Homo sapiens: one gene and its partners. The protein of the gene in region 2 purifies or fractionates together with the protein of the main gene of each other region. This does not show direct contact. Each region holds a gene or a part of one and is shown on either strand. Other genes may lie near its edges. The genes, in order: DICER1, RBM3, TMEM94, MRPS28, RALYL, YARS2 and AARS2.

Region 1 (3,500 bases), on a different chromosome or scaffold from region 2:
ATATTTTTAAAAAAGTTTTTCAAACTTCTCAAGAAAAAAAGAAAAAATATCCCCACCCCATTTATTATTCTATATACCCAGCAAAGAAAAAAGATTACTTCTAACTTTAAACAACCTTAACAAAGAATTAGAAATAGTCAATAAAAGTATGAAAAAAATTCAAATTCACTCGTAATCAAAGAACTATACTTTAAAACAGTTCTACTCCCTAGCTGCTTGGCAAGCATTCAATAGTACTAATTGGTCTGGTGCTGGCACGGGTGTATGCTGCTTTGGGGAGCAGAAATCGCTGTTGTAGGGAAATAGGGAAATTATATTTGAAAGATTTTTTCCTCCAAGTTCCCTCTTCATTAAGCCACTAGATATGTGTTCACTATAACCGAGTATCTGACATAGCATGTATGCAAATTAATAAAAGAAAATCATGCATCAAAAGCCTTTGAAAAGTTCACAATTCTTTGATGCAGCAATTGCATCTCTAAGAACTTATTTTAAGGAGGTAACTAGATACATAAGCGTATTTATCACCTCCATGGTTATTAAACATCCTAACCAAAAACTACTTAATTACTCGGCCATAAAGAAGCGTTTAAATCAATCAGCCACGTGTTGACTAGCGTGTGGCCCCTGAGCATCACGATACCCATCAATACACGGAAAGTCAGCCACAATATATTATACGTGAAAAGAACAGGTGACAGTATCCTATACATAACAGAATTCCATTTTACATTTTAGATATGTTTATATCTATACACATCCACAATTCCTCCCAAAATGTTAATATTGGTTATTTCCGAGGTAGCATAATCAGGCAAATTTAACTAATTTTCTTCTTATTTACTTGTACTAACTTTTCTAAAATCAACACAAATCATTTGTGAAAAAAATAAAGAGAAAGTGGGAAAATACTAATTTCTAATAGGTTGTTTAGCCATACAAAGTTACATATAATACATTTATACTGCTGATTACTTAAAAAAACAGACTTATTGTTCATATTTATGGTTTTGAGATAGAAAGGAATTTTAAAACTTACCAAGTTTAATTCTCTCTTTTTACAGCTGAGGAAACGGAGGCCCAGAGAGGTAAAGAGACTTTCTTAAGATCAAATAGTAAGTTAGAAATGCCAGACCATGACATTTCCAATCAGTTCTTGTAACTTCTATACATATGTTTATATAAACAAAGGGAAGGAAAAGAATGAACAAAAACTAACAAAACCAATATGCCCCACTGGCATCCAAAGAGAGCTTAAATCTAATTTTAACTAATTCCTCAAATTTCAAGCTTAGCTATTTCTAAAGAATGAGACTAGGTAACACTTGGAAGTCTACGAGCTGGTCCCGCCTTCTCGCCTCACAGCCTGCCACGCTCCAGCTCAGGCTGTTCATCTTGGACAAGAGCACAGAGGCGCGTTAAAGTAAGAGCAGGGCCTACTGACTCCTCCAGTGCACATCTGGGCAGCTGGCAGGGCGTGAACTCGGCTCTGCGGCTAGACTTCAAACCTACTCTTAATTTTTGTCATAGAAAGTCACTACTCCCCAACAAAGGTTTGGTGCAATTAAAAAGGGGAAGGTACAAATTAAAGCAATGACAACTAAAACAGCTACTAGTATTAAGGTTGTATTTCCTGACTCCTTATAAGAAAATCTACAAAAATAAGAAAATCAAAGGAAATGAAATGGGAAGAGGAGGAAATGAGAGTCTCTCTGGGGGACACAGGTATGCAGATGAATGTTAAGAGACTGGAAAGATCTAAGCAATATCCTTTCCTACAAAAATTCGAAATAGCTCACAAACACATTAGAATTAGCTCTGTCACCAGACAGCCTTTGGCTGAACTTACAATAGAAGCCTCCCAAATTCCAATGGTCAAAAATTTAGAAGTTTGTTTTTTAAATTAGATTTTCCCACTTCAAGTAGAAGCAGAATGTATATTTATGATGCTTCCCTGAGATATTAGCAAATATTTCTGATCCATTTAAAAAAGGAAGGATAAGCTACACTGGGCTTTTACTAAAGCTAAACCTGCCTTGGGGTCCGGCAGTGGAGGCCACTTCTTTGGCATGCCTCAATGCTGGAAGCCCTCATGAAGGCGTGGGAAGGGTACCTAACTGAAAGGCCTGGTTCCTTCTCTTCACCTGAATGACCACACAGCCCACAGTGGGGGCAGACAAGTTCAAGAGGCCTACCTGCAAACTGCAGTTCACTCGTGCTCCCACAGAACACAGCACACTGGGTCCCACACCCCTGACCTCCTGCTGTCCCTTTAGACCACTATGCCGTCAGAACTCTGAAACTACAGAGACTCCTAGTTAGACCACTTTTTTCAACATCGTTTTGAACAGCACTAACCTCAGAATCCATTCCTTGCATTTCATTCTTCTCAAGCTGAAACTGCACAAAGTCATCAATGACATGGAAGAGCTCAGGAGAGACAGCTTTGAAGTACTTGTGGTAGTCGTACTTTACAGCCAGCGATGCAAAGATGGTGTTGTTGACCAGGGCAGACCGCAGGTCTGTCAGGACCCCCGGGGAGTGCTGCCGCGGGTCTTCATAAAGGTGCTTGGTTATGAGGTAGTCCAAAATCGCATCTCCCAGGAATTCTAAGCGCTGGTAACAATCTGAGGGGATCCGAAGTGGAACCGTAAGCTTGTGCAGAAGCATTTACACTATCCCCACATAGCAACTGATCCCCAAATCCGAAGAAGATTTGTATTTACAATCATTTTCATACATATATTCTTCAAAAAGGATATCTGACATATCATACTAAAAAGCCTCTGGAAACTAAATTTTAATGACAAATTAAGTACATTTCTTATATAAACTGGGGTCATAAAATCTTCAAGTGGTCAAAAGACTAACGCTTGTTAAGAAGGAAAAACAAAACCTCACAGGTGCTATCATGATCACTGAATGCTTTTCTCTGGCACTGTGCTGTCTGGGCAGGTGCTGGGGCCTTCCTCTCGAGTCTCCCTCACACATCATCACTTAAGTGAAACCAGGGCCGCACACACCTCTCCATGTGGCTACACTGTGCTGCCATCGCTAAAGTCTCATTCACACTCTGGAATCTGTGCATAAGTGATACCATTCCTCACTATTCCTGGGCTATTTTTGTTACACAGGATGACAGGAAAAGAAGACCCTCTTCTTAACTTGAGCTATTATAGAAATGAATTTACCACAAACCAAGAGATTGAGAAAGAAGAGTTGTGAAAGGGAGCAAAGGCAGGTAAACTGGTTGTCAAAATGTGAAAATGATCAATGTTAAATCAACACCTCTATTTTCTCACAGTGATTAAAATAATATATCCAGCTGAGGAAACTGAGGCAGGGACCGATGGTGACTTGTCCCAGAATAAGCAAGGAATTAAGAAGCAGGGACTGCTAGGCGAGAACCCAGGTCTCGGAACTTCCAGCAGAATGTAGTCGAAAGCCACGTATCATTTTTCCTCCATAACGAAAATTAGGCTTTAGTTTCATCAGTCTTT
Region 2 (3,680 bases):
CTGCCTGGGACTCCCAAAGTGCTGGGATTACAGGCGTGAGCCACCGCACCGGGCCCCAAATGATTTTTTGAGTAGCGCATGCCCAATTACCTTTTACAAGACAGACTCACATGCTGATTTTCCAGCCTTCAGCAAGAGTGTGGAGACAAAAGTTACTCCATCTTGGATGCCAATCCACCACGTTTACTTCTGACTAGCGCCAGTCCTGTAAATGCCTGATTCCTCCTTTGCCATCCCTAGTTTAAGAGCTTGTCAGGGGCCGGGCGCGGTGGCTCACGCCTGTAATCCCAGCACTTTGCGAGGCCGAGGCGGGTGGATCACGAGGCCAGGAGATCGAGACCATCCTGGCTAACACGGTGAAACCTCCTCTCTACTAAAAAATACAAAAAAATAGCCGGGCGTAGTGGCGGGCTCCTGTAGTCCCAGCTACTCCGGAGGCTGAGGCAGGAGAATGGCATGAACCCGGGAGGCGGAGCTTGCAGTGAGCCCAGATCGCGCCACAGTACTCCAGCCTGGGCCACAGAAAGCCCAGATCGCGCCACAGCCAGGGCCACAGAGCGAGACTCCGTTTCAAAAAAAAAAAAAAAAAAAAGAGCTTGTCAACTTTTACATTATCGCACAAATTAGATGATGATGCATAGAGTATTATGCCTGTTCTGGAGTTGCCTTCATCTTGAGCACACTCTTTCCCTATGGTATGTAAGCCGTGGGTTGAAGAGCAACAGCATGGTTATCTTGCTGCCACCCAAGGCCATGCTTATTTTTGAGACAGTTGTGCTCTGTCGCTCAGGCTGGAGTGCAGTGGCACGATCTGGGCTCACTGCAATCTCCACCTCCCGGGTTCAAGCCATTCTTGTGCCTCAGCCTCCCAAGAAGCTGGGATTACTTGGTGTGCGCCACTACACTCGATTAATTTTTGTATTTAGTAGAGACGGGGTTTCATCATGTTGGCCAGGCTGGTCTCAAACTCCTGACATCAGGTGATCCACCCACCTCGGCTTCCCAAAGTGTTGGGATGACAGGTGTGAGCCACTGCGCCCGTCCCCACGTCATGCTTCTAAGTCCCCCCAGTAAAGAACCCTTTACTAACAATTTTTGTCTGCCTTGTTTCTTGGCTCCTTCGGCATTTGGAGGTTTGCATACAAGGCTCTTTCATGGGAACAATGAGTAAATGGATATATGCATTAAAAAAACGAATATACTCTTTCACAGCATATTAGAAATGTTTATTAAGAATAATGGCATGAACTGCTTTTAACAATTTAGAAAAGACCCATTCCCCCCGCCCCCCCCCGCCCCCAGATCCAGGGCACTTCCTCTAAGTAAATACAAATATTTCTGTAGTGAACTGTATGCATATTCCCACTGAGTAAAGGTTATAAGAAGCCTCAGGTCAGGTCTTACCACCAAACTTGAAAACACTTGGAATGCAGCTGGGCAGGGACTTGAGCAGGTTTTGTCTTGATAAGCAGGTAAGAATGGCAGAACACTGGCTTATTGTCAACCAATGTTTTTTTATATACCTGAAGTATTCACAGCAACTTATTTTAAGAAGCTTTTTAAAAGTTCTACACCTCCACCCCCACAACTCCCCAATCCAGAACATGGAACAAGGGTGTGGAGCTGTTTGATGGACTTGGTCTGTTCTTAACATTTAATACTCTTAACTCCTAGGCCAGGTGTGGTGGCTCACGCCTGTAATCCCAGCACTTTGGGAGGCCGAGGCGGGTGGATCACTTGAGGTCAGGAGTTCAGGACCAGCCTGCCCAACACGGTGAAACCCTGTCTCTATTAATACAAAAATTAGCCGGGCGTGGTGGCAGGCACCTGTAATCCCAGCTACTTGGGAGGCTGAGGCATGAGAACTGCTTGAACCTGGGAGGCGGAGGGTACAGTGAGCCGAGATTGTGCCACTGCACTCCAGCCTGGGAGACAGAGTGAGACCCTGTCTGGAAAAAAACCAACAAAAAAACACTCCTAACCCCTGTGTGAGGTGGGTATTATTATTTCCATTTTATGGATGTTATAACTGAGGCAGAGAAGAAATTAAACTAGGAAGCAAGGATCTGAAGTGATTTCTGCCTAGGTGGGATAGGAGGGGTTGGGCTTAGGACTTGAAAGCCTAATTGAAAACCAAAAGCCAATCTCTTAATTTATTCTGGCCCTTGACAAGAGATTTGGTGAATGGTTCAGAAAGATTTTTGGTACAGACAAGTTCCAGGGCTTGAAAGTGAAAAGTAGTTACAGGCCATGTGTTTGGTCTTTGCAGGTCTTGGGATACATGTTCTCAAGGTACCTTGAGTGTTTGGGGGGTTTCTAGCCTCAGTGGGTTCTTGACAAATGTGCATCAGTTGGATGCTGAAGACAAACCAAAGTAGGAGACCAACAAGCACTTTAAGGGTGGTCGGGGGTTGACCTCAAATCTGGAACTTTATTCATCACAGACTATGGCACTATAGAGAACTGTGGGCTCTCTTCCTTAGAGCAGATAGACAGCCAGAGACTGGGACTCCCTGGGCTGGATGATCACAAAGCACATTGTAAACACAGCAGAGCAGAGCAGGTTTAGAGTTGTTATACAAATAAATTTTGGTCTTCATTGATTCCACTTAGGAACATTTTGTTGCAGGAATATTACTGATTATGGATCCTACCTCAGCTGACACTGGGGGTGAGAGGTACATTGCCATCCTGAGAGACAGGGAGCAGAGGACCCCCTCCAATCCCCCGACCTACAAGGCATTCACAGCAGTCCTCCTGCCAATTCTCACTGCCTTAGCTCCCTAAAGGCCCAGAATAAGATGCGTCCTCAGACCAAGTATCCACCTGGTGGGGTTAGCCACAATGCCCCATAGCCTGGGCCTGGCTTAGTGGGTGAGGTGGAAGTTCCCAAGTCTCCATCCACCTGCCAAAGCAAATTCATGACTGTTTGGGTTACAGGAAGAAGGGATATTGGGGCCTGTCCCAACTAGCTGGGAAACTCAGGAGGCAGGCCTCCAGGACTGGAACTAATAATACAGGGTTCCACAACGCACCAGCAAGGGAATAGGCAGCTCAGGACAATAATGTCCTGGAGTTTGCAACCTGGTGGTAACTTAGCTCAGTATTAGCCAGGTGAAAGCCATGAATACAACAGATTTTTCTGTTCCAAACTAGAACCAATGGAGGGATAACACCCATGGGGCCTCAATACAGCCACTAGAAAGAACCATGACTAAAGGGAGCAGAACTGAGGAACTAAGACCAGCTAGAATTACAAAATTACCACTTTACCACCCAAGACACACACACACCAAAAAAGATCAAATCCCCGTGACTGAGAGCTTTGCCAACTCTTCTCAGTGGCTTTATATGCCAATTAACCTAACCCTCCACAGAAAATGTAAAATGGCATAAGGCTGAAATTAAATGACTCACCTGAGGTCAAATACCTGGGAAGTAGAAGAGCCCCTACATAAATCCTGGAATCTGAGCTCTTAGCATTGTTTTCAAACCAGGCCTCTCTCATGGCCCTCATACACAAAGATGAGTTCAGTGCATCTCTGCCCAACCCCCATCATTTCAGGGGAAGGAATGAACTGGTACCACTATTTATGATAGGGATTAGCTCACGCCATGAGATTAGGTGCTTATGTTCTCAGAACAATGGGACTAAGATAAGAGACCAGTTAAGGAAACCC
Region 3 (4,604 bases), on a different chromosome or scaffold from region 2:
CAGACCTGGGCAGTGGACGTTTAGATGCTAAGTGAGTTTGTCCTTTCGTTCTGAGATGGTTAATTGCCACCATGTGCCAGGCACTGGGAGTGCAATGGTGATGGCAAAAGATGGGCCCTGCTTTCCGGAGCTTAGTCTCCTGCCCAGGAGCATCAGTGGCTCCCTTTTGCTTATGGAAGCCATCCCAGAGGCACGAGTGGCCTCCCAGAGCCTCCAACACAGGCTCACCTTCCTCTCCAGCCTCTTCTCTTCCTCCTCATTCTGATGCTGAAACTACTCACCAGTCCTAGGCCCACTGTGTATCAGCCTCTGCCTCTGTGCCTCTCTCCACTGTTCTCTGCTGGTGAGCTTCTCCCTCACTCATCTCCAGCTGACAAAACCATTCTTCCAGGCCCATCCCCAGTGCTTCCTCTTTCAGGAAGCCACCTCTGATCGCCCCAGCAAATCGGTTTGCTCCCTCTTCTGGACTCCTGCAGCACAGGGATCTTTGTTAATGCTTAGCCGTGTTTGCCTTGTTTGGCGTTATCTGTCCACATGTCTCATCTGCCCCACTGGGTTGTGGCTCCTTGAGGAGCTATGTTGTTGTCTCCACCTTGCACCCCTCACAGGCCCTCTGCAATGTTTGTGAAGTGTATCTGAATGGGATGGGGGTACAAAGAACGAGAGCTCCAGGTGTTGAGAGGAGGTAGAGGCTCTGGGGCTGGAGTGGCCGGGTAGGGCTTTATAAGGGAGGCATCCTTGAAAGCAGGGAAGTGTTGGAACGAGTGGAGGGGTTTGACGCAGACCTCCTGGGAGAGGAAGTGGGCAGACAGTGCTTCCGGAAGTGCTGCTGTATCTGACTGGGGGGCAGGGCCGTGGCTGAGAGGGTTGTTTCCCTCTTTCCATTCCCCTCAGATGCCCTCAGGGATGGCAGGGAGATCCAGTGGCCCAGTGCCATGTATCCAGACCTCCACATGCCTTTTGCGCCATCCTGGTCCTTGCACTGGGCCTACAGAGACGGACACCTGGTCAACCTGCCAGTCAGCCTGCTGGTTGAAGGAGACATCATAGCTTTGAGGCCTGGCCAGGAATCGTTTGCTTCTCTGAGGGGGATCAAGGTAGCTTGAGGCTTTCCTTCTCCCTTGGAAATGCGGTGGGAACATCCACAGGCAACGATGGGAGGGTCCCCAGACTTCATCCGGAAGCTTCCCGGCCAGCTTACTGGCTTTTTGGCAGAGGCTCTGGAACATCTTCCTCCACCCTGCTGTTCTTTTTTTTGAAACAGGGTCTCACCCTGTCGCCCAGGCTGGAGTGCAGTGGCACGATCTCAACTCACTGAAGCCTCTGCCTCCTGGGTTCAAGCGATTCTCCCACCTCAGCCTCCCCAGTAGCTGGGATTACAGGCACATGCCACCACACCTCAACTGGCTTATTTTTTATTTTTTGGTAGAGATGGGGTTTCGGCATGTTGGCCAGGCTGGTTTCGAACTCCTGACCTCAGGTGATCCACCTGCCTTGGCCTCCCAAAGTGCTGGAATTACAGGTGTGAGCCACCACGCCTGGCCCCCTGTGCTGTTCTTTATTCTCGCTAAAAGTCTAGTCCCACAGGCCCTGTCCCAGTGGACTCTGGGCTAACTGATGGCTCCTAACCCCAGCGAATGTCTGTACTTAGATGAATTGTCCAGGAAGAGTGGCCTCTGATAGGACCCTCTCGTTCCCACTCTCCCACTTGCTGCCGGCAGGATGACGAGCACATCGTCCTGGAGCCGGGAGACCTCTTCCCCCCCTTCTCCCCTCCACCCTCACCCCGGGGAGAAGTGGAGAGAGGGCCACAGAGCCCCCAGCAGCACCGGCTTTTCCGTGTCCTTGAGACCCCTGTGATTGACAACATCAGGTAGGGGTGCTGCCCCGCCTCCTCCTGTCCCTGGTGTCTTCTGTGAAGAGGGGAATGGGACTGACAAGGAAGGGGCCCCGTTCATCTCGAGGTTCTCTTGAGGGCAGGCATCTCCTTAGGCTCCTGTCCTTAACATCTTGTGAGAATTCTTAGACTGAGTGGTGCCCTCTCCCAGTCTCTACTCTGAGGGGACAGCTCTGGAGGTGAACACGGGCTAGGGCCAGGGCAGAGCGTGGAACTGCAGGACTCACGGTGCTTGAAGAAGCGGTATCTGGCAGAGAGGCCCAGAATCCTCCCAAGGTGTAGGTTTCTAGCCTCTCTGCCAAGTGAGACTGACAGTCACTTCTTTCTGCAGATGGTGCCTGGACATGGCCCTGTCCCGACCAGTCACTGCCCTGGACAATGAGCGGTTCACAGTGCAGTCGGTGATGCTACACTATGCTGTGCCCGTGGTCCTGGTGCGTGTGGCGGGGCTGTGCGGGGCTGCATGGGGCAGAGGAGAGGGCTGGACACGGGGGGGTCTCAGGGCCACTCACATGAGCGGGAGTGAATGCAGAGGGTCCCAGAGTGAGCCAGCCTGTGGAGTAGCAAAGGAAGGGGAACGGCAGTGCCTGGGTCCCTCTAGAGGGGCGGGGTCAAGGCTGTGCCTCTGCTGTTCCCAACAGGCCGGCTTCCTCATCACCAATGCCCTGCGCTTCATCTTCAGTGCCCCGGGGGTCACTTCCTGGCAGTACACCCTCCTCCAGCTCCAGGCAAGGACCACCCTGTCCTCTCTGTCATGCTTCCCTCCGACCCGCAGGGCTGGCTCTTCTCCTAGTACCCTGGCTGTCCCTCCCTCTCTGCAGCCCAGAGGTCCCCTCACGCTTCAGCTTAAGAACACCTCTTTCCAGCTGGGCGTGGGGACTCAGGCCTGTAATCCAAGCACTTTGGGAGGCCACGGCAGGCAGATCATGAGGTCAAGAGATCGAGACCATCCTGGCCAATATGGTGAAACCCCGTCTCTACTAAGAATATAAAAATTAGCTGGGCGTGGTGGCACGTGCCTGTGGTCCCAGCCATTCAGGTGGCTGAGGTGGGAGAATCCCTTGAACCTGGGAGGTGGAGGTTGCAGTGAGCCGAGATCACGCCACTGCCCTCCAGCCTGGCGACGGAGCAAGACTCCGTCTCAAAAAAAAAAAAAAAGAACACCTCTTTCCCTTCCTGCCCCTGAGAGAGCTGGCCCTTCCTGCCCAGGGAATGGCCGTGGGGCCAGGGCAGCCCTTCCCTTCCCTCCTCCCCAGGCCCGGAGCTCAGGAGCCATCTGTGTGGTCCGCTCCTTCCCAGGTGAATGGCGTCCTGCCCATCCTCCCCCTGCTCTTTCCAGTCCTCTGGGTTCTGGCAACTGCCTGTGGAGAGGCCCGTGTCCTGGCCCAGATGAGCAAGGCCTCACCCAGCTCCCTGGTAGGTTTTTCCAAGGTGTCTGGGGGAAGTCACAGGAACAAAAAGAGGGAGCTGGCTGTGCCAGAGGACGGGGGCAGAAGTCCAGCCCCACCTTGGGCTCGGCATGTTGGTCAGCCTGGGCAGCTCTCCAGGCCTCGGGCCCTCTCCATTCCAGAAGGGCCTCCAGGCCAGGCCCTGGGTGTGAGTGAGCGTCTGCCCTGGCTTCCACCAGGTGGGGAGTCAGAACGGCCTGGGCCCTTTACCAAAGGGGTTGGGAGCCCCGCTGGTGTGGGCCCCCCCTCTGCCAGCTTGGAGAGGCCTGTGTGAAGGCGGCGTTTTCCTCACTGAGGACCTCACCCTCTCTCCGTGCAGCTGGCTAAGTTCTCAGAGGATACTCTCAGCAGCTATACGGAGGCTGTCTCCTCTCAGGTACAACACTGACCCGGGATGGCTTCTCTCGCAGGTCCCTAGAGCCATAACCCTGGGACTCCCCTATTTATGGCCTTAAAGCCTCCAACCAGGCTCTTAGAGCCCCATGTCCACCCGTTACATGTGGACATAACCTGGACCTGTTCCCATAACGTGTCCACACCCTGTCCCAGAGAAGTGCCTCTCCACCCCAACTTCGTGGTGCTCCCCTGGATTTTCCCCTAGAGGCCGTCTCCAGGGAAATGAGGCTGAGCCCTAAATGGCCTTGCAGACTTCCTCTCTCCCACCAGGAAATGCTGCGCTGCATTTGGGGCCACTTCCTGAGGGTGCTCGGGGGGACATCGCCAACGCTGAGCCACAGTTCCAGCCTGCTGCACAGCCTGGGCTCTGTCACGGTGAGGGTGGGCCTTGCGGGGAGGAGGCAACTGTCATGCCCGCCCTGCTCTCTGGCTGGGCCTGGGCTGCCCACCTGCCGCTTGAGTGGCCCCTGGGCAGGATAGGCTAATGCCAGGCCCCTTTCCTATCTCAAATGCTTTCCATGCAGGTCCTGTGCTGTGTGGACAAACAGGGGATCCTGTCATGGCCAAATCCCAGCCCAGAGACTGTACTGTTCTTCAGCGGGAAGGTGGAGCCCCCTCACAGCAGCCATGAGGACCTCACCGATGGCCTATCCACCCGCTCCTTCTGCCATCCCGAGGTAGAGGAGGAGGTACGGCCGGCTCCCATGGGCCCGACTCTGGGCCAGGCTGTTTAGCCTTGGAGCCTGGCCAGGGAGGGTGAGGTTTCGGAGGGCGAAGGAGGGTTTGGGCACCATTAGGATCTGCTTCTGGGCAGGTGAGGTGAAGACAAGGCAGCCAGGGGACCTAGAAGCATCCTGCCTCCC
Region 4 (4,604 bases), on a different chromosome or scaffold from region 2:
CATAATTGCTCTCCTAGGTCTACAGTAGACTCTTCGCCTTTCATTTCCACAATATGACCAATTTTTATATGCCAAAAACTTCTTAAACACTGTAATTCATCCTATCTAAAATACCATTGATTACTAGATTCACTATTGTTTTATATATGATTAAAAAAAAACACTGCCAGTTAATTTAATATACTGTCAACTGTAACATGCATCCTGATATCAAAAATAGTGAAAAGTAAAAAATGCACATTAGAAATTGATGGGGAAAAAAAATCACTTCTATCTCGTTTACTATTGTTCTATTGTTTTCCCATCTCAGAATCTTAGTTCAACCTCTCCTTGACTCTTGATATTCCACTCCTAGATCTCCCACCTTAGTGCTTTCTCCAGTGCCTATTTATATTCATAAATATCTTTACCTACATAAACCACAACAGAATGAACTCTATTTATTAGGAAAAATAATCCTAAAAATAGATGCAAAATAATAAGAAAAGAAAGGAGAAGTGGAAAGAGACTATGGAACAGAGAGAAGGGACAAAAAAATGGTTCCAGGCAAAATAGCCTAAGCAACATGCATTATTACAAAGTTGGTTTTAAGTTTATGGTGTGGAATGGCTTATTATCAGGATGAACATTCAAGTCTTCCCAACAACTGCTCTCACTGCTTTGAGAAGATATGAGTCTGGCCTGACATGACCAACAAGTATTTTTAAAGCACTTCAGACTTTACTGCAGCATTATCAAGACAAATAAATATGTTTTCTGTCTTTTCAAAAAATCACCTTTCATTCAACAATACTTTTGCGCTATCCCAACTTTTATGAATACTCTTAAGGTACTTGGAAATGATTTTACTTACTCTCCATCCACTTCTGGTCTTCTACATACACAATGAAACTTTCCACCAAAATCTATGTACAGATCATTCTCCACAATATGAAAGATCCGTCCAATGACCAGTTTATCCTTTGCAGGTCCCATCTGTGTAAGAGGAGAATGTCTCAGCATAGATGCAAAGGATTCCACATTTTTTGGAGAACCCTAAATATGAAAAGAGATATTTATATACATATAACTCAACATGAAGGTATAATAAAGTCTTAAAGAAATTTTCTTAAAGTCAATTGTTGTAGCAATAATTTTAAAATATATGTGGAATTTTGCTTTAAAATGCCAGTTATGCTCTTCAACTTCCTCTTCCATCCTTTCCTTCCTGAAGAGGAGCTAAAGAAAGTAGGCATCAAGGTGGAGCACAGTGGCTCACGCCTGTTATCCCAGCACTTTGGGAGGCCGAGGCAGGTGGATCACCTGAAGTCGGGAGTTCTAAGCCTGACCAACATAGAGAAACCCTGTCTCTACTAAAAATACAAAATTAGGGGTTCCAAGATGGCCGAATAGGAACAGCTCCAGTCTACAGCTCCCAGCGTGAGTGACCCAGAAGACAGGTGATTTCTGCATTTCCAACTGAGGTACCGGGTTCATTTCACTGGTGCTTGTCGGACAGCGGGTGCAGGGCAGTGGGTGCAGCCCACCGAGTGTGAGCCGAAGCAGTGCCTCACCCAGAAAACGCAAGGGGTCAGGGAATTCCCTTTCCTAGCCAAGGGAAGCTGTGACAGACGGCACCTGGAAAATCGGGTCACTCCCACCTTAATAGTGCGCTTTTCCAATGGTCTTAGCCAACGGCACACCAGGAGACTATATCCCATGCCTGGCTTGGAGGGTCCCATGCCCACGGAGCCTCGCTCATTGCTAGCACAGCAGTCTGAGATCAAACTGCAAGGCAGCAACGAGGCTGGGGGACGGGCGCCCACCATTGCCAAGGCTTGAGTAGGTAAACAAAGCAGTCAGGAAGCTCCAACTGGGTGGAGCCCACCAAAGCTCAAGGAGGCCTGCCTGCCTCTGTAGACTCCACCTCTGGGGGCAGGGCATAGCCGAACAAAAGGCAGGAAAAACCTCTGTAGACGTAAATGTCCCTGTCTGACAGCTTTGAAGAGAGTAGTGGTTCTCCCAGCACTGAGTTTGAGATCTGAGAACAGACAGACTGCCTCCTCAAGTGGGTCCCTGACCCCTGAGTAGCCTAACTGGGAGGCACCCCCAAGTAGGGGCAGACTGACACCTCACACAGCCGGGTACCCCTCTGAGACGAAGCTTCCAGAGGAACAATCAGGCAGCAACATTTGCTGTTCATCAGTATTCGCTGTTCCGCAGCCTCTGCTGCTGATACCCAGGCAAACAGGGTCTGGAGTGGATCTCCAGCAAACTCCAACAGACCTGCAGCTGAGGGTCCTGACTGTTAGAAAGAAAACTAACAAACAGAAAGGACATCCACACCAAAACCCCATCTGTACGTCACCATCATCAAAGACCAAAGGTAGATAAAACAACAAAGATGGGGAAAAAATAGAGCAGAAAAGCTGAAAATTCTAAAAATCAGAGTGCCTCTCCCCCTCCAAAGGAATGCAGCTCCTTGCCAGCAATGGAACAAAGCTGGACAGAGAATGACTTTGATGACTTGAGAGAAGAAGGCTTCAGACGATCAAACTTCTCTAAGCTAAAGAAGGAAGTCAGAACCCATCGCAAAGAAGCTAAAAACCTTGAAAAAAGATTAGACAAATGGTTAACTAGAATAACCAATGCAGAGAAGTCCTTAAATGACCTGATGGAGCTGAAAACCACGGCACAAGAACTACGTGACGAATGCACAAGCTTCAGTAGCTGATTCGATCAACCGGAAGAAAGGGTATCAGTGATTGAAGATCAAATTAATGAAAGGAAGTGAGAAGAGAAGTTTAGAGGAAGAAAAGTAAAAAGAAATGAACAAAGCCTCCAAGAAATATGGGACTATGTGAAAAGACCAAATCTACGTCTGATTGGTGTACCCAAAAGTGACGGGGAGAATGGAACCAAGTTGGAAAGCACTCTTCAGGATATTATCCAGGAGAACATCCCCAATCTAGCAAGGCAGGCCAACATTCAAATTCAGGAAATACAGAGAACGCCACAAAGATACTCCTCGAGAAGAGCAACTCCAAGACACACAATTATCAGATTCACCAAAGTTGAAATGAAGGAAAAAATGTTAAGGGCAGCCAGAGAGAAAGGTCAGGTTACCCACAAAGGGAAGGCCATCAGACTAACAGCGGATCTCTCGGCAGAAACTCTACAAGCCAGAAGAGAGTGGGGGCCAATATTCAACATTCTTAAAGAAAAGAATTTTCAACACAGAATTTCATATCCAGCCAAACTAAGCTTCATAAGTGAAGGAGAAATAAAATCCTTTACAGACAAGCAAATGCTGAGAGATTTTGTCACCACCAGGCCTGCCCTAAAAGAGCTCCTGAAGGAAGCACTAAACATGGAAAGGAACAACCGGTACCAGACACTGCAAAAACATGCCAAACTGTGGACCATCGATGCTAGGAAGAAACTGCATAAACTAATGAGCAAAACAACCAGCTAACATCATAATGACAGGATCAAATTCACACATAACAATACTAACCTTAAATGTAAATGGGCTACATGCTCCAATTAAAAGACACAGACTGGCAAATTGGATAAAGAGTCAAGACCCATCAGTGTGCTGTATTTAGGAGACCCATCTCACGTGCAGAGACACACATAGGCTCAAAATAAAGGGATGGAGGAAGATCTACCAAGCAAATGGAAAACAAAAAAAGGCAGCGGTTGCAATCCTAGTCTCTGATAAAACAGACTTTAAACCAACAAAGATCAAAAGAGACAAAGAAGGCCACTACTTAATGGTAAAGGGATCAATTCAACAAGAAGAGCTAACTATCCTAAATATATATGCACCCAATACAGGAGCACCCAGATTCATAAAGCAAGTCCTTAGAGACCTACAAAGAGACTTAGACTCCCACATAATAATAATGGGAGACTTTAACACCCCACTGTCAACATTAGACAGATCAATAAGACAGAAAGTTAACAAGGATATCCAGGAATTGAACTCAGCTCCACACCAAGTGGATCTAACAGACATCTACAGAACTCCCCAACCAAAATCAACAGAATATTCATTCTTCTCAGCACCACATCACACTTATTCCAAAATTGACCACGTAGTTGGAAGTAAAGCACTCCTCAGCAAATGTAAAAAAGAAATGATAACAAACTGTCTCAGACCACAGTGCAATCAAACTAGAACTCAGGATTAAGAAACTCACTCAAAACCGCTCAACTACATGGAAACTGAACAACCTGCTCCTGAATGACTACTGGGTACATAACAAAATGAACGCAGAAATAACTAAGATCAGAGCAGAACTGAAGGAGACAGAGACACAAAAAAACCTTCAAATAATCAATGAATCCAGGAGCTGGTTTTTTGAAAGGATCAACAAAATTGATAGACCGCTAGCAAGGCTAATAAAGAAGAAAAGAGAGAAGAATCACATAGACGCAATAAAAAATGATAAAGGGGATATCACCACCGATCCCACAGAAATACAAACTAACATCAGAGAATACTATAAACACCTCTACGCAAATAAACTAGAAAATCTAGAAGAAATGGATAAATTCCTCGACACATACACCCTCCCAAGACTAAACCAGGAAGAAGTTGAATCCCTGAATAGACCAAT
Region 5 (4,604 bases), on a different chromosome or scaffold from region 2:
ATGATGTATGCACTAATTTAAACTTTTGGATCCAAGGGCAAGACAGTCTTTTCCTTGGCAATCTAGTCCTTACTTGTCCATGGAATCTCATACCCAGACTGAAGTAATAATTGGATCATTTAGTTCAGTAGAGCGGAGCATGCTCAACTTAATCACAGATCAAACCAACAGTTCTTTAACTATTATATCACATCTGAAATATCTGCATTCTTTATTAATAAAAAGGGTGCTTATACAGGGCAGAAATATAACTTTTTCAAGTATTTTATCATTATGATCTGAAGTACTTTAAACTATAAATTATAAATAAATTATAAAAACTAGCATAAGATGCATCTTTTCTTACATGACATTGTTGGAAATAAGCTTTAAATACAGAATTGCAATATCACCTGACTTTATATATGATCAACAGTGAAACATGCTAATCATAAAAATAGCTTTTACAAATATACATTTGTATATAGTGTTTCCCTTACCATTCATAAATGCCTTTCACATTTTAAGACTGAAAAAAAAAACATAATTAGCAAAGGGGAAAACACATTTACAATTTAAACCATAAAAACCTGACAATTGTACAGCTTAAAACATAGAAGAAATGGAATTTCTAAAACTGAGCAATACTGTCCATTTTATTTATTTGGGTTTTTATATAAATTGAACCAAAGATGCTGCTGTCCAGTAAGAAACCTCCTTTCACATTTCTGGGGGTTGTCACAGTTTCTCTTTTCTGCTTTGTGGCATCATGCGTTATTTCAGATCACTTTATCTGTAGAAACTGAGAAAATAAAAAAAAATTTTAAAATACAGAGATTTGTGTTTTATTGTTGATAGCATGCGTATACTGATATGTAAGTTAGATTTTAAGGTTAGATCAGGGGAAGAATAAAGGAAGAATTAGATATTTAGGACAAATAATTTTGATGGTAGGTTCTTAGGTCCTTTGTTGTAGGCAAATCTATAATTATTTTCATTTATGGAATGTTACGATTTTTTTTAATCCAGCTAATTTATTGCCTGAGGTCAGCAATTACTTTTCAACCTGAGCTCTTGTCCAAGTCAAAGGAGGAACCACTTAAAGTTCTAGACTAGGGAAAGAGATTTCAATTACTCGTGAATCTTTGTTGTGCCCCTAACAAGAATGACCATAGGATACCCCTACTACGAGGCTTTGAACAGTGCTGTCCTAAGCCTTATGCATCTGGGATAGGAGAAAAAGCCAATACAGGTCTTTGATCTGCATTTCACAATCTTGGTTGCAAAAGAAGAAAATCAGAAACATTGAAAGACTTCATGGTGCAACCATGAGTCTGAAGCATTATGTAAGAGCCCAAATTCAATTGGTTGAACAACTGATTGAAATTGAATATGAAGACAAAATAATGCAAGACTCAATCAGTGGGGAAAATTATGTATTTATCTTAGAATCCTATCAAGTTCCAGGTCTTTATATTTAGATAAAAAATATTAGACCTACTGTTATCCCATCAACTTCAAAGGTCTTAGGGGTTAGATAGAAAATCTGTGTATGTCTTAAGAGTCAAAGACATGCAAATCAAGGTATCAGATGGGATGGGACATGTTGACCTTTTATAAGTAGCCAGAGAATTAGGTAACTTGACTTTATTTATTAAAGCTTTGAAGTCCATGATACAAAGATTATGAAAAAGACTGAGTGTGGCAAATGGGTGGTGAGAATTTCTTTGGAGGTTTGCAGCCCCCCAGATTTCATGCCTGGCTAAGACTACTGGTTGAAAGAGACTCAGTGAATGTGATGATTGAATTTTCACACTCATGTGTGAGATGTGCCTCCCTCAAATCTTGTTATGATATTGGCACATTACCTGTCTAACATGAAAAAAAATTTAATAAACTGATCTAAAACAAAACATACCCACTTAATAGTCTTTTCTATAGTCAGACACATTTAAAAACTTATATCCCTAGGAAAGAAGCTTTCATGAATAAGACATTTTGACACTGTATTTTGATATATTCTCTTTCTCTCTATTTCTCTCCTTCACTGCCTTTTTCCTTTTCTCTTCCCTCTCTTTCTCCTTACCCAATTCATACTGTACACTGATCACATATATATGAATTTTGAAAAATGAAAGCTTTATTCAAATGTGTTTGTCATGCAGTTCCAGGTTGTGTTTATGTGCATGAGAAGAGTCAGTTTTGTACTTAAGGCACAAAGGTTCGAACTTATTATACAACATAAGTAGACTACTTTTTGTGTGGTGTAAAGGAAGTTTTGTATATGACCTGCATGCACATATCAACAATGATCAATTATCATTATGAGAATGAATAACTTAAAAAATAAAATAAAAGTAACCCATAGATGAACACTGATATATGAAAATAGGTATTACAATGTTTGAATTTTGATAGATACCACTTGTGTGCAAAAAAGGAAATAAGGCTATTTATATGATTGCAATTGCACTCTTTCCTCTAAGGCCTCCATTGATCACTTTCTTATTATAAATGGAAAATGCTAAAAATACTGTAGCAGCTGTGTATGTAAAGCTTACTAGTCATGGTGTTTCTCCAGGTTAAGTCATGGCAGTTGACATGAATTTAGTACATTCTTACACCATCCTGCATGTGTCAAAAGAGGTAATGACTGTTTAGCAACTATGTATTTTGTTAAGATGAAAAAAACAACCTGTAGATTTTTTGTGCATAATTCATTACCCCCAGTATAATTTTTTCTTACACCTTCCTTTGCTTCTTAGTTGTAAATAATTACATAAAAATAATTATTGGGGAAAGAAAGGTAGATTTGAAAATAATTTATTGAAGTCTTCCTTCTTACCATAAAGCTTCAAAGCATTTGAATAAAACAAAAGACTCATTAACTTTGCATTGTGAAGTAGGTATTATTAACCACATGGTTACAAGTCATGAATATATTTCTCCTTATCTAAAAACAATGTCAAAACATATTCACAAAGCTTTCCATAAAACTTCTAGTATGAGAAAAGGCTTGCTGTTGGCTGTAAAGCCTGGGAGAAAGAGGACAAACTATGACATTCATATTGCTTTTTTCTTAAGAAACATAGTCACTTATGGAGCTGATTGTTTTAGTATAATGTAAAACTAATTGTGCTCTCTTTCTCTGAATAGTGGGTAATTTATCTACTGGCTGTTTGGGAGCTTGGAAGCTTTTAAAACAAATTCTCCTGATGATGAATGCTTTTTAAACTCTCAATCTCTCCCATTTCTGAAAAAGAACAAAGAGATCTACTCGGATGGGACTGGATTGTATTGAACCAAGCAATTACTTCTACTTGACAAAGATGAAATGGATAGTATTAATCTACATGGAAGGCACATTTAATTTTAAACTTTATGCATTACTATATTTGAAATAAAAGAGTACAGCAATATATAGAATAAATCCACCTTATTTACACTCTGCCCAGAAAATCATACTTTTAAATAAGTCTTATGACTTCTTCAGTAGCAGGAATGCTTGTTATTTTTGTTCTAATTCAGATTTATAACTAATAAGAACTTAGAGAAATTTACATCATCTGTATTTTTAGGGAGCATATATAAATGCAAATAAGGTGAAAGAAACTGTAGGTAAGACAGGTCACATAACACTTTATAGAAAAGCAAAGTCTTATGAACAGCAATTATACTTGTTGCCACTATGGATCATGTTTCTTGAGTAATCATTCAGCCACTCACACTTTTTATAGACAATGTGAATATATTTGGCTTTCACAAATCCCTCATTCTAAATGAGATACAATTCAATTCAAATTTTTAAGTAACACAGACTAATTCTCAGCACCTACTGTTCATCATAAGTTAAAACTTGTCTTCTGTTAATAAACTCTTAGGAACCAAATTACGTTACATTTTTAGGCTCAAATAATCATATCAAAAAACTGTAATGGAATGAAAACCAAAATGAGTAGTAACTTATTGGAATAACTACCAATGGAGGAAACTGCTCCATTAGGTAGTTCTTGGAGGCTGAATAATCTCTATTCCTGAGTTGATGGCCATTTAGAGTATAGGACAGTGAATCAGAAAACACAGGGGAGAATCATCTGAGATTTTAACTTTAAAAACAAGGCTTAGATGAGTGACATCTAGTATGTAATTTCCCAACAGGGTGACTACAGCCAATAATAATTTACCTGCACATTTTAATATAACTAAAAGAGAATAATTAAATTGTTTGTAACACAAAGGATAAATGCTTGAATGTAAATTGGGCTAACCCTTGACATTGTCTATAGTGATTCTTGGTAAATTGTGACTACACTGGCAAACTGTCTTCTGAACATGCTCACTGCTTTTTTCCCTGTCTCCATTCCACCTTCTCTGTCCTTATTTCCCTGCCCCTCCTAACTGTTCAGTTTTATAACTCAAACCCATTGTTCTGCTCAGTAATTCTCATGTCTTTATCCTATTTTCCATCTGACTCACAATAGTCATGAAATAAAAAAGACCAAGAAACAACAGGGCTTTTTAGCATAGTGGATCACAAATGCCCAAATCAGTGGGTTTTGTTATTTCATACAGAAATGGAAAGATAAAAAGGCTAGGAAAATCAGCCATTTTCTATAGTATCATAG
Region 6 (4,531 bases), on a different chromosome or scaffold from region 2:
GATAAGCATCAATTATATGCTGAATTATTTTTTGTGAAAAACCTTATTTACTCCTTAATACCTCATAACTGATTAATTAAAATATTCTACTCAATTCCTGAATAGAAAATGCAATTCTCAAGGGGATTATTATATAGTTTACAATAATAGTCTTATGACGTTAGTAGGTTAGTGCAAAAGTACTTGCGGTTTTGGCCATTATATGCTCATTTCATTTTCAGAAATTCAGTTAATACTATAGATAGGTTAGGTAACCTTTCCCATCCCCGAATATAAAAAGGATACAGACTATGAGAGGGGCTGTGTTAATCTGTTACATAGGGCCTCTGTTTCTGCATCCCTCTAAAACTGTGACCATATCCCTAAGCCGTACACTGATGCCAGTGTATTTACTGAACATGTCCCTCAAATGCACTTTTCCAGTGTTGGAGGAAAGACTGACTGGGTTAGATATAATAAGAGACAGTATAGGAGTACTGTACTATTATAGAAAATATAAAGTATTTTCAACAATAAGTACTCTCAGGCTATACTTTATTCTTGGACTAAACTAACTTTTCTAAGGAAGAGATGCCACTAAAGCACTATCAGGAAAACATCCTCTCTGGAAACACATGCTGTGAACTGTAACATTTTATTTATTTTTTGAGACAGAGTCTTGCTCTGTCACCCAGGCTGGAGTGCAGTGGTGGGATCTCCGCTCACTGCAAGCTCTGCCTCCCGGGTTGATGCCATTCTCCTGCCTCAGCCTCCCAAGTAGCTGGGACTACAGGCGCCTGCCACCATGCCCGGCTAATTTGTATTTTTAGTAGAGACAGGGTTTCACCGTGTTAGCCAGGATGGTCTCGATCTCCTGACCTCGTGATCTGCCCGCCTCGGCCTCCCAATGTGCTGTGATTACAGGCATGAGCCACTTCTCCTGGCCTTGTGAACTGTAACATTTAATGGTGAATTAACTGTAAATCTAAAAGTTAAATAATCTTACCCTCGGGGACCATCTGGAATGGCATTTGCTTTGCGGCAAGTATCTAGGACACTTGTTCCAGGATCGAGAAAAAATTCAGAAAATGGAGCTTCTTTAAACAACTCTTTTAACTCCTGATCAGACATGACCTCCAGTGCATCTATGCTACTGTGATAAAGGGCTTGTGTACACCTGAAAAACACATTTTAAGAGCTACATCATATAAATGTTTATTCAAATACATGTTCTAATACCCATTAACCAATTATAGAGTGTCCAAGTTCTAGACTAAAAGTTTTTTTTTGAGATGGAGTCTCGCTCTGTTGCCCCGGCTGGATTGCAATGGCATGATCTCGGCTCACAGCAACCTCTGCCTCCCGGGTTCAGGCGATTCTCCTGCCTCAGCCTCCTGAGTAGCTGGGATTACAGACGTGTGCCACCACGCCCAGCTAAGTTTTGTATTTTTAGTAGAGATGGGGGTTTCACCATGTTGGTCAGGCTGGTCTCGAACTCCTGACCTCGTGATCAGCCCACCTTGGCCTCCCAAAGTGCTGGGATTACAGGCGTGAGCCACCGCGCCCGGCATAGACTAAAAGTTTTTTAAACATCTATCTGGTATAATTCATAAACTTAATTCAAGATAATCCTTCTTTCCAATAAACAGGGGCTATTTTAAATTGCTAAGTCAAATACTGACAGTCCTTGTGATAAATGACAAGATAATCCTAAAACATACTCCTACTTTTCTCATGTCTATCCACTGAATAACTAACTATCAAGTGTTAATCATACTAAACTACTACCTTTTAGCAGAATCCAATCCTTCTCGTCCATGAACAAGCTTTGTTACTTCTGCTGCCAGTCGTTTCTGAGGACCCCGCCTTTCTGGCTCTTTGACATGCAGCTGCATGATATGATCAATCTCTGGAAGGGGCAGGAAAGTGAACAGCTTCAGGTACCTTTGAGACAAAAAATAAAGAGTTACACTTATATAACATACCTAATTTTTATCTCCAGCTCTTCTACCCTTTAAGGTTATCCTGCTTACTTTTAAATATGAAACAAACATACAGAAATGTACTGAACATAGTAGGTCCCATGCACACATCACCCAGATTTAAGGTGTTACTATTTTGGCATCTTTGTTTTCAATTTCTTTTTTTTTTTTTTGAGATGGGGGTCTTGCTGTTGCCCAGGCTGGAGTGCAGTGGCATGATCATGGCTCACTGTAACCTCAACCTCCTGGGCTCAAGCAATTCTACCACCTCTGCCTCCCAAGCAGCCGGGACCACAGGCTTGTGCCACCACGCCTGGCTAATTTTTATATTTTTTTTGTAAAGACGGGGTCTCCTGTGTTGCCCAGGCTGGTCTCAAACTCCTGGGCTCAAGTGATCCTCTTGTCTCAGCCTCCCAAAGTGTTGGGATTATGGGCAGGAGCCACCAAGCCCAGCCTCGTATTTTCTTTTTAAAAGGAACAAAATAGGCATAGATGAAGGCCGCAGTCCAATCACATTCCCTTCCTTGCCCCGAGATAATCATAAATCTAAGTTTATGTGCTGCCATCTTTCCCAAGCATGTTTTTATACTTTCATGTGCATGTGGCCATAAAAAAAAAGTACTGTGTAATTTTAAAAACTGATATAAATCATCATGCTCTGCATAATGATGTTTCTGTCAATGATGGACTACATATATCCGCGGTCCCCAACCTTTTTGGCACCACGAGGCGGCGGGGAGGGGAGGTGGTTTCAGAATGAAACTGTTCCACTTCAGATCATCAGGCATTTGTTGGATCCTCAAAAGGAATGCGCAACCTAGATCTCTTGCATGCGCAGTTCACAATAGGGTTTGTGCTCCTATGAGAATCTAATGCAACCGTGGATCTGACAGGAGATGGAGCCCAGGTGTAATGCTCGCTCGCCTGCCACTCAGCTCCTGTTGCGCAGCCCTGTTCCTAACAGGCCACGGACTGGTACAGTCCAACAGTGGTTCATAACATTATAATACCATAGTTTACTGTACTTTTTCTATGTTTACGTATACAAATACTTACCCTCGCGTTATCACTGCCTTCAGTATTTAGTACAGTAATGTGCTGTATGTGCTTCTACCCTGGGAGCAACAGGGTACACTGTATAGCCTAAGTGTGTAGTAGGCTATGCTATCTATGTTTGTGCAGGGACACTCTACGATATTTGCAATGATGAAATCACCTAACAACACACTTCCCAGAATGTATCCCTATTGTTAAGTGATATATGACTATAATATCATCCTATATGTATTCTCTTTTTCTTTGGTGAAATATATATAACACACAGAAAAAAGTACATTATTCACAAAGATATAGCTTAATGAATCATAAAACATCTATGTAACCATCACCATGGTCAAGAAATACAGTATTGGGCCGGGCGCAGTGGCTCACGTCTGTAATCAAATAGTGAGTTTGGCAGAGTTGCTAGATTTAAAGGTAATATATATAAAGTAATTGTATTTCTATACACCAGAACCAGATAGAAAATGCAATTTTTGAAAAGATTATCTAAATTCTCTAGGCCGGGTGCGGTAGCTCAAGCCTGTAATCCCAGCACTTTGGGAGGCTGAGGAAGGTGGATCACTTGAGGTCAGGAGTTCGAGACCAGCCTGGCCAACATGGCGAAACCCTGCCTCTACAAAAATACAAAAATTAGCTGGGCATGGTGGCGCATGCCTGTAGTCCTAGCTACTCAGGAGAATCACTTGAACCCAGGAGGCGGAGGTTGCAATGAGCCAAGATCATGCCACTACACTCTAGCCTGGGCAACAAAGTGAGACACTGCCTCAAAAAAAAAAAAAAAAAAAAAAAAAGATTATCAATTCTCAATACATCAAAACCCCAGGACTATATCGTCAAACATTCTAGGACTAAATCTAAAGAGAAAAAAACACAATTACCAAAATTTTGTAATAAGGCATGATAATCTTCCACTCTGTTCTTCAAAAACATCTTGGCCAATCTTAGCCCTTTTTATTTCTATGTCAGTGTTACAATGAGCTTGTCAAGTTCCACAAAAAGCCGGTTTAGATATGGTTGGCACTGTACTAAATGTAGATCAAATCCAGAACTGGTATCTTGGCCGGGTGCGGGGGCTCATGCTGTAATCCCAGCACTTTGGGAGTCTGAGGCAGGTTTATCGCTTGAGTCCAGGAGTCTGAGACCAGCCTGGGGAACAAGGTGAAACTCCACCATTACTAAAAAAAAAATACAAAATTAGCTGGGCATGGTGGTGTGCACCTGAGCCTGGGAATTTCAGGCTACAGTGAGCCAAGACTGCGTCACTACACTCTAGCCTGGGCAATGGGAGTGAGATTCTGTTTCAAAAAATACAAAAAAGAACTGATATTATTTTTGTACTATGAATATGGTCTAACTCTCCATTTATGTAGGTCTTTATTTTGCTCAATAGCATCTTTTAATATTTTGCAGGAAAGTCATATACCTTTTAAGTCTTAAAGAATTATTCCTAGATTACTTTGATGTTACAGAGCATCAAAATATTTTTTTCACTTTTTGTTGCAGGTATA
Region 7 (4,604 bases), on a different chromosome or scaffold from region 2:
GTACTCCCTGGGCACACATCATTTCAAGGGAGGAGGGAAGCTCAGTCTATGCACGAAGCCAACCTAGGAAAGCAGGAGGCAGGGCTAGCTGGGCACTGTGGACATGGGGAGAGGCAGGGTGGTATTCCTGCTGCAGAGGGGTCTGGGTATGGAAGGAGAGTCCAGGGAGAAAGGAACATTGGGAAGAGGTCAGGGGTGGATATGAGGCATGGGGCTGGCCCAGAGCTCCCTCCTCTGCCCACCTTGGTGAGTCTCAGCGAGCCCCTTGTGCATGGGCTAGGTATCCTGCTTACCAGGGAACATATCTGAAGGCCCCAGGGTCCTCAGAGTCCGATCAATGATCCGCCTACCCCGCTCCAGGGAGGCCAGGAAGGCTGCCTCGTCCTCTGACACCAGGTTGGCGATCTGAACCAGGCAGAGAAGAAGTGGAGCTGGGTCTCCTTGGAAGGAGGGTCTCTCTCCACAACTCTCCCATCAACCCCTTTCTCTCCCACTGGAATCCAGTACCTGGGCTGAGTTCCTTTGCAGTTCTGGATAAGCATCTCCCTGGGGGAGGTGGAGAGGGCTGAGGAGGTGTGAAAGGCAACCAACCCACCCCCACCTCCCCACCCTGGGCCTCCCTGAGGACACCTGCCCTGGAGGCTCAGACACATTGAGGGGCTGGGAGAGGGACTCAAATGGGGAACTGGTTTCCCTGTAGGGTGGCAGAAGGGGGTCCTGAGGTCAAGGGCTGAGCAGTTTGGAAAAGGAGCCTCCTCAAGTTCTCCTGCTTCTTGTAAGCAAGGACAGCTTTCTTAGCTTGCTGATAGGATGCTGGGCTCGATATTTAGGGTGGGGACCTCTGGGCACCCAGGCTGGGGGCACTGTCTAGGCTCAGTGGTAGGCTCCCCAAAGTGCCCAGGGAGGCCCAGAGTGAAAAAGAAGCTCTGTCCTTACCAGTGTCTCCACCACTACAGGTACCAGGCTGCCTAGGAAGCCAGGTGGTGCCTTTAAGATCTCCATGGAGAAACGCACAGCTCGACGCAGGATCCGACGAAGAACCAGCCTAAAGGGGTTCAGAGCCCAGACATGAATCCCCAGCGGCTCATGGTCAGCAATATGGGGAGTGGGAAGGACGAGGTCCAGTGTGTGCTCCCACCTCAAAGCTCTCCCTCTCCCCATTCCTCCTACTGGCTCAACCAGACCCACCTCTCCTGTTCCCTCCCTCCTCCACCTGAGACCCCCAGCAGCCCCTGTCCTCTCTGTAGCCCTTCCAGACTCACGGGGGACCTGACATCCCAGGGAAGATGCCATCAGAGATGCAGACACTGAGTGTGCGGATGTGGTCAGCCACCACGCGGTACGCTGTGTCTGTGCGCCCCTCGTCTGCCACCCCTACTCGGCCCAAGTAAGGGGGTGCCCTGCAGCCCTGGGAAGCAGAAGAGTCAGCCAGTGGCCCTGCCTGACCTGGCCCAGGTGGGTGCTCTTTATCGCCTCTAGAGCATCTGCCCTCAGCCCTAAAGCCAACCACATCCAGAATGGCCTTGCCAGTCCAGTCCTGGGCTGAGAAGCCTCACAGATGAGCACAAGCCAGGCCCTGCCCTCACGGGGCTCATATTTGGTGCTACAAGTGAACATATCTGTGACCATTTACTGAATTTCTACTATCAGAACTGGGTGAGTACTTGAACAACATGGCCTCGAATCCCCAAAACAGCCCATTCCAGGAGGTATTAGCATGCTTGCTTTAAAGAAGAAGAAGCTGAGGCTCAGAGGAACTCAGTGACACAAGGCTACCCAGCTCTCAAGGAGCAGATCTGAGATCTCAGCCGGGCCTGTTGGACTCCAGGTGCTCTCCACTACCTGTTCTTGCCTCTCCCATCTTTTGTGGGGGTGGGCAGGGAGGGAGAGTGTAAGCTACATACACGGAAATGCTCCAAAGCAGGGAGCTTGATTCACTTACCACCAAACCTCTCTCTTCCCCAAGCTTCTTCGTCTAACAGTCATGCCATTCACTGTGTTGCTCAAGTCAATAGCCTGGGAGCCATCTTTGAATTCTTTTTCCCCTACCCGTCATGATCCATCAGTGGTTCCTTTTGCTCCTACCTCCATGACATCTCTCAAATCAATCTACTTGTCTCTACTTCCACTGCTATTATCCGAAGCATGCCCTGTGGTCCTTGCCTGGACCGATAATAGCCTCCCAACTGATTCCTAAGTTTCTGCTCTCATCTCCCTCCAGCTCATCCTCCACACAGCAACAGGAGTAGCCTTTTAAAAGTGTACATCAGGCTGGGCGCGGTGGCTCACACCTGTAATCTCAACACTTTGGGAGGCTGAGGCGGGTGGATCACCTGAGGTCAGGAGTTTGAGACCAGCCTGGCCAATCCTGGTGAAACCCCATCTGTACTAAAAATACAAAAATTAGTCAGGTGTGTTGGCGGGTGCCTGTAATCCCAGCTACTCTGGAGGCTGAGGCACGAGAATTGCTTGAGCCCCGGAGGCAGAGGTTGCAGTGAGCCGAGATCATGCCACTGCACTCCAGCCTGGACAACAGAGCAAGCAAGACTCTGTCTCAAAAAAAAAAAAGAAGGGTTCTCAGTGGGGAGTGTGGCATGATCTGATGTACACTTTTATTTATTTATTTTTTTTGAGATGAACTCTCACTCTGTTGCCCAGGTTAGAGTGCAGTAGCACGATCTCAGCTTACTGCAACCTCCACCTCCTGGGTTCAAGAGATTCTCCTGCCTCAGCCTCCCAAGTGGCTGGGACTACAGGTGTGTGCCACCATGCCTGGCTGATTTTTCTATTTTTTTAGTAGAGACAGGATTTTGCCATGTTGGCCAGGCTGGTCTCCAACTCCTGACCTCAAGCGATCCGCCCCCCTCTGCCTCCCCAAGTGCTGGGATTACAGGAGTGAGCCACCGTGCCCAGCCCTGAGAACTCTTCTCACCACTCTGAGAATCAAGGCCCCACTTTGGACTTTGAGGCCCACAAGACTGGATTCTGCCTTCTTCTCTGTGAGACTGTTCACAAAAATGGCCCTTTCCTAGGCATATGCCACTTTAAAATGGGACTTTACAGCTGTTTCCCATCAAGGGACAGAATCCATTTCTCCATCCCCTGAATCTCTGCTGGCTTTGTGACTTGCTTTGGCCCATAGAATACAGTGGAAACAACACTGTTCTGAGCCTATGTGTCTGCTCTCTGTCTTGGAACCTTGCTGAGCTGTGATGTGGACAAGCCCAGACTAGCCAGCTAGGTGATGACAGACACATGGTCCAGTCACCCCTACTGCCCCCAAACTGACAGCCAGCCAAGCCCCAGAGGAGCTGCGGCCTCTCAGCTCACCACAGATGGATGAATGAGCTCACACAAGACCAAAGAATGAGCCAGCTAAGCCCAGCCTAAACGCTAGCTCACAGACTCAGGGGGCAGATACATGGTTGTTGGTTAAGCCACAGAGCATTAGGGTGGTTATACAGCAAAAGCCAACTGACACATGTTCCTACTATATCCCATGGGATTCTCCTTTAGCTGGCTGGCCACCTTTTAGTTTTTGGCACATGTCAAGCCCTTTCTTGCGGGGCAAGGAGGGAGGGTATAAGCTACACACATGTGGAAATGCTCCAAAGCAGGGAGCTTGATTCACCTAGCTCCAAACCTCTCTCTTCCCCAAGCTTCTTCATCTCAGTAAACAGTCATGCCATTCACTGTGTTGCTCAAGCCAATAGCCTGGGAGCCATCTTTGATTTCTCTTTCCCCTCCCCATCTAATCCATCAGTACCAAGGCCCTTGGTACCTGCTGTCCCCTCTGCCTGGAAAGAACTTCCTGTAGCTGACTCCTCCTTTGGGGCTCAGCTCAAAGGTCATCTTCTTGGTGAGCCTTCCCCAAGCACCTTATCTAAGATTCCTCTGTACCCCTCCTTCTTCCTAGTTACTTTCACCCATGTTTACTGCCTGTTCACAATCTGTAAGCTATTACCTTGTTCTTTAACACATTTATTGATTGTCTATCTCTCATGCTAGCATATAATCTCCATGATCTCTTTCCTGCTTACTGCTGTGTCTTCTGTACCAAACACAAAGGATTTAACATAAAGTAAGCACTCAACACGTATTTTCTAAATAAATGAAAGAGGCAAGGAGTTAGGAGGAACATCAGGTAATAAGTAATGAATCCTAGTGTCTTGCTTGACGTCTTGGAATTCTTGGTTGGTTATTGTCCTCAGATGCTGAGAACACTCTGAGTTCTCAACAAAGATGGAATGCAATGGGGCTGAGGGCTGTGAAGAGCAGGTTAGAGGGCTTCTGGAAGGGAAGAGGCACTCACCTGCTGTATGGCGTTGAGCAGCGGGGAAAAGAGGTCAGTGTCATAGGTGGAGTGTTTGCCTTGCAGCACAGCCACCAGCCTTTCCAGGCCCATTCCTGTGTCCACATGCCGCTGGGGCAGGGGCTGCAGGCTTCCATCTGCCTCTCTGGCCAGGGAAGGTGTGCAAGGTGAGGCCCCACCCAGGATTACAGGTGTGAGACAGATGCCCAAGTGGAGTAGAGAAATGGGGGGGGGCCCAAGGGAGCTGACAGTGGGAGGAACCAGACAATCAGTATCTTCCCCTGCCACCCTG

What was found.
Region 1: the proteins of RBM3 (region 2) and DICER1 purify together in Homo sapiens (co-immunoprecipitation; one study listed by IntAct). This does not show direct contact.
Region 3: the proteins of RBM3 (region 2) and TMEM94 purify together in Homo sapiens (affinity purification with mass spectrometry, with the first as the bait; one large-scale study listed by BioGRID). This does not show direct contact.
Region 4: the proteins of RBM3 (region 2) and MRPS28 purify together in Homo sapiens (affinity purification with mass spectrometry, with the first as the bait; one large-scale study listed by BioGRID). This does not show direct contact.
Region 5: the proteins of RBM3 (region 2) and RALYL purify together in Homo sapiens (affinity purification with mass spectrometry, with the first as the bait; one large-scale study listed by BioGRID). This does not show direct contact.
Region 6: the proteins of RBM3 (region 2) and YARS2 purify together in Homo sapiens (affinity purification with mass spectrometry; 2 studies listed by BioGRID and IntAct, with this or other methods). This does not show direct contact.
Region 7: the proteins of RBM3 (region 2) and AARS2 purify together in Homo sapiens (affinity purification with mass spectrometry; 2 studies listed by BioGRID and IntAct, with this or other methods). This does not show direct contact.

What each region holds. Positions count from the first base shown.
Region 1 is NC_000014.9:95,091,530-95,095,029, forward strand, and holds part of DICER1 (endoribonuclease Dicer), read right to left. Parts: intron 2,628-3,500; coding exon 2,359-2,627; intron 1,166-2,358; exon of another isoform or gene 1,040-1,165; intron 1-1,039. UniProt on the Homo sapiens protein: Double-stranded RNA (dsRNA) endoribonuclease playing a central role in short dsRNA-mediated post-transcriptional gene silencing.
Region 2 is NC_000023.11:48,578,687-48,582,366, reverse strand, and holds the end of RBM3 (RNA-binding protein 3), read right to left. Parts: 3' UTR 1,205-3,680; downstream 1-1,204. UniProt on the Homo sapiens protein: Cold-inducible mRNA binding protein that enhances global protein synthesis at both physiological and mild hypothermic temperatures. Reduces the relative abundance of microRNAs, when overexpressed.
Region 3 is NC_000017.11:75,487,038-75,491,641, forward strand, and holds part of TMEM94 (transmembrane protein 94), read left to right. Parts: intron 1-894; coding exon 895-1,097; intron 1,098-1,721; coding exon 1,722-1,873; intron 1,874-2,228; coding exon 2,229-2,331; intron 2,332-2,538; coding exon 2,539-2,625; intron 2,626-3,196; coding exon 3,197-3,313; intron 3,314-3,664; coding exon 3,665-3,721; intron 3,722-4,011; coding exon 4,012-4,116; intron 4,117-4,265; coding exon 4,266-4,418; coding exon of another isoform or gene 4,419-4,430; intron 4,431-4,604. UniProt on the Homo sapiens protein: Could function in the uptake of Mg(2+) from the cytosol into the endoplasmic reticulum and regulate intracellular Mg(2+) homeostasis.
Region 4 is NC_000008.11:80,002,146-80,006,749, forward strand, and holds part of MRPS28 (small ribosomal subunit protein bS1m), read right to left. Parts: intron 1,036-4,604; coding exon 854-1,035; intron 1-853. Other genes in the region: TPD52-MRPS28 protein, read right to left, coding at 854-1,035.
Region 5 is NC_000008.11:84,917,071-84,921,674, reverse strand, and holds part of RALYL (RNA-binding Raly-like protein), read right to left. Parts: intron 1,858-4,604; exon of another isoform or gene 1,762-1,857; intron 782-1,761; coding exon 764-781; coding exon of another isoform or gene 759-763; 3' UTR 1-758.
Region 6 is NC_000012.12:32,748,952-32,753,482, forward strand, and holds part of YARS2 (tyrosine--tRNA ligase, mitochondrial precursor), read right to left. Parts: intron 1,924-4,531; coding exon 1,768-1,923; intron 1,157-1,767; coding exon 986-1,156; intron 1-985. UniProt on the Homo sapiens protein: Catalyzes the attachment of tyrosine to tRNA(Tyr) in a two-step reaction: tyrosine is first activated by ATP to form Tyr-AMP and then transferred to the acceptor end of tRNA(Tyr).
Region 7 is NC_000006.12:44,305,987-44,310,590, forward strand, and holds part of AARS2 (alanine--tRNA ligase, mitochondrial), read right to left. Parts: intron 4,458-4,604; coding exon 4,313-4,457; intron 1,456-4,312; exon of another isoform or gene 1,409-1,455; coding exon 1,263-1,408; exon of another isoform or gene 1,248-1,262; intron 1,090-1,247; exon of another isoform or gene 1,046-1,089; coding exon 937-1,045; intron 547-936; coding exon 508-546; intron 406-507; coding exon 294-405; intron 1-293. UniProt on the Homo sapiens protein: Catalyzes the attachment of alanine to tRNA(Ala) in a two-step reaction: alanine is first activated by ATP to form Ala-AMP and then transferred to the acceptor end of tRNA(Ala). Also edits incorrectly charged tRNA(Ala) via its editing domain.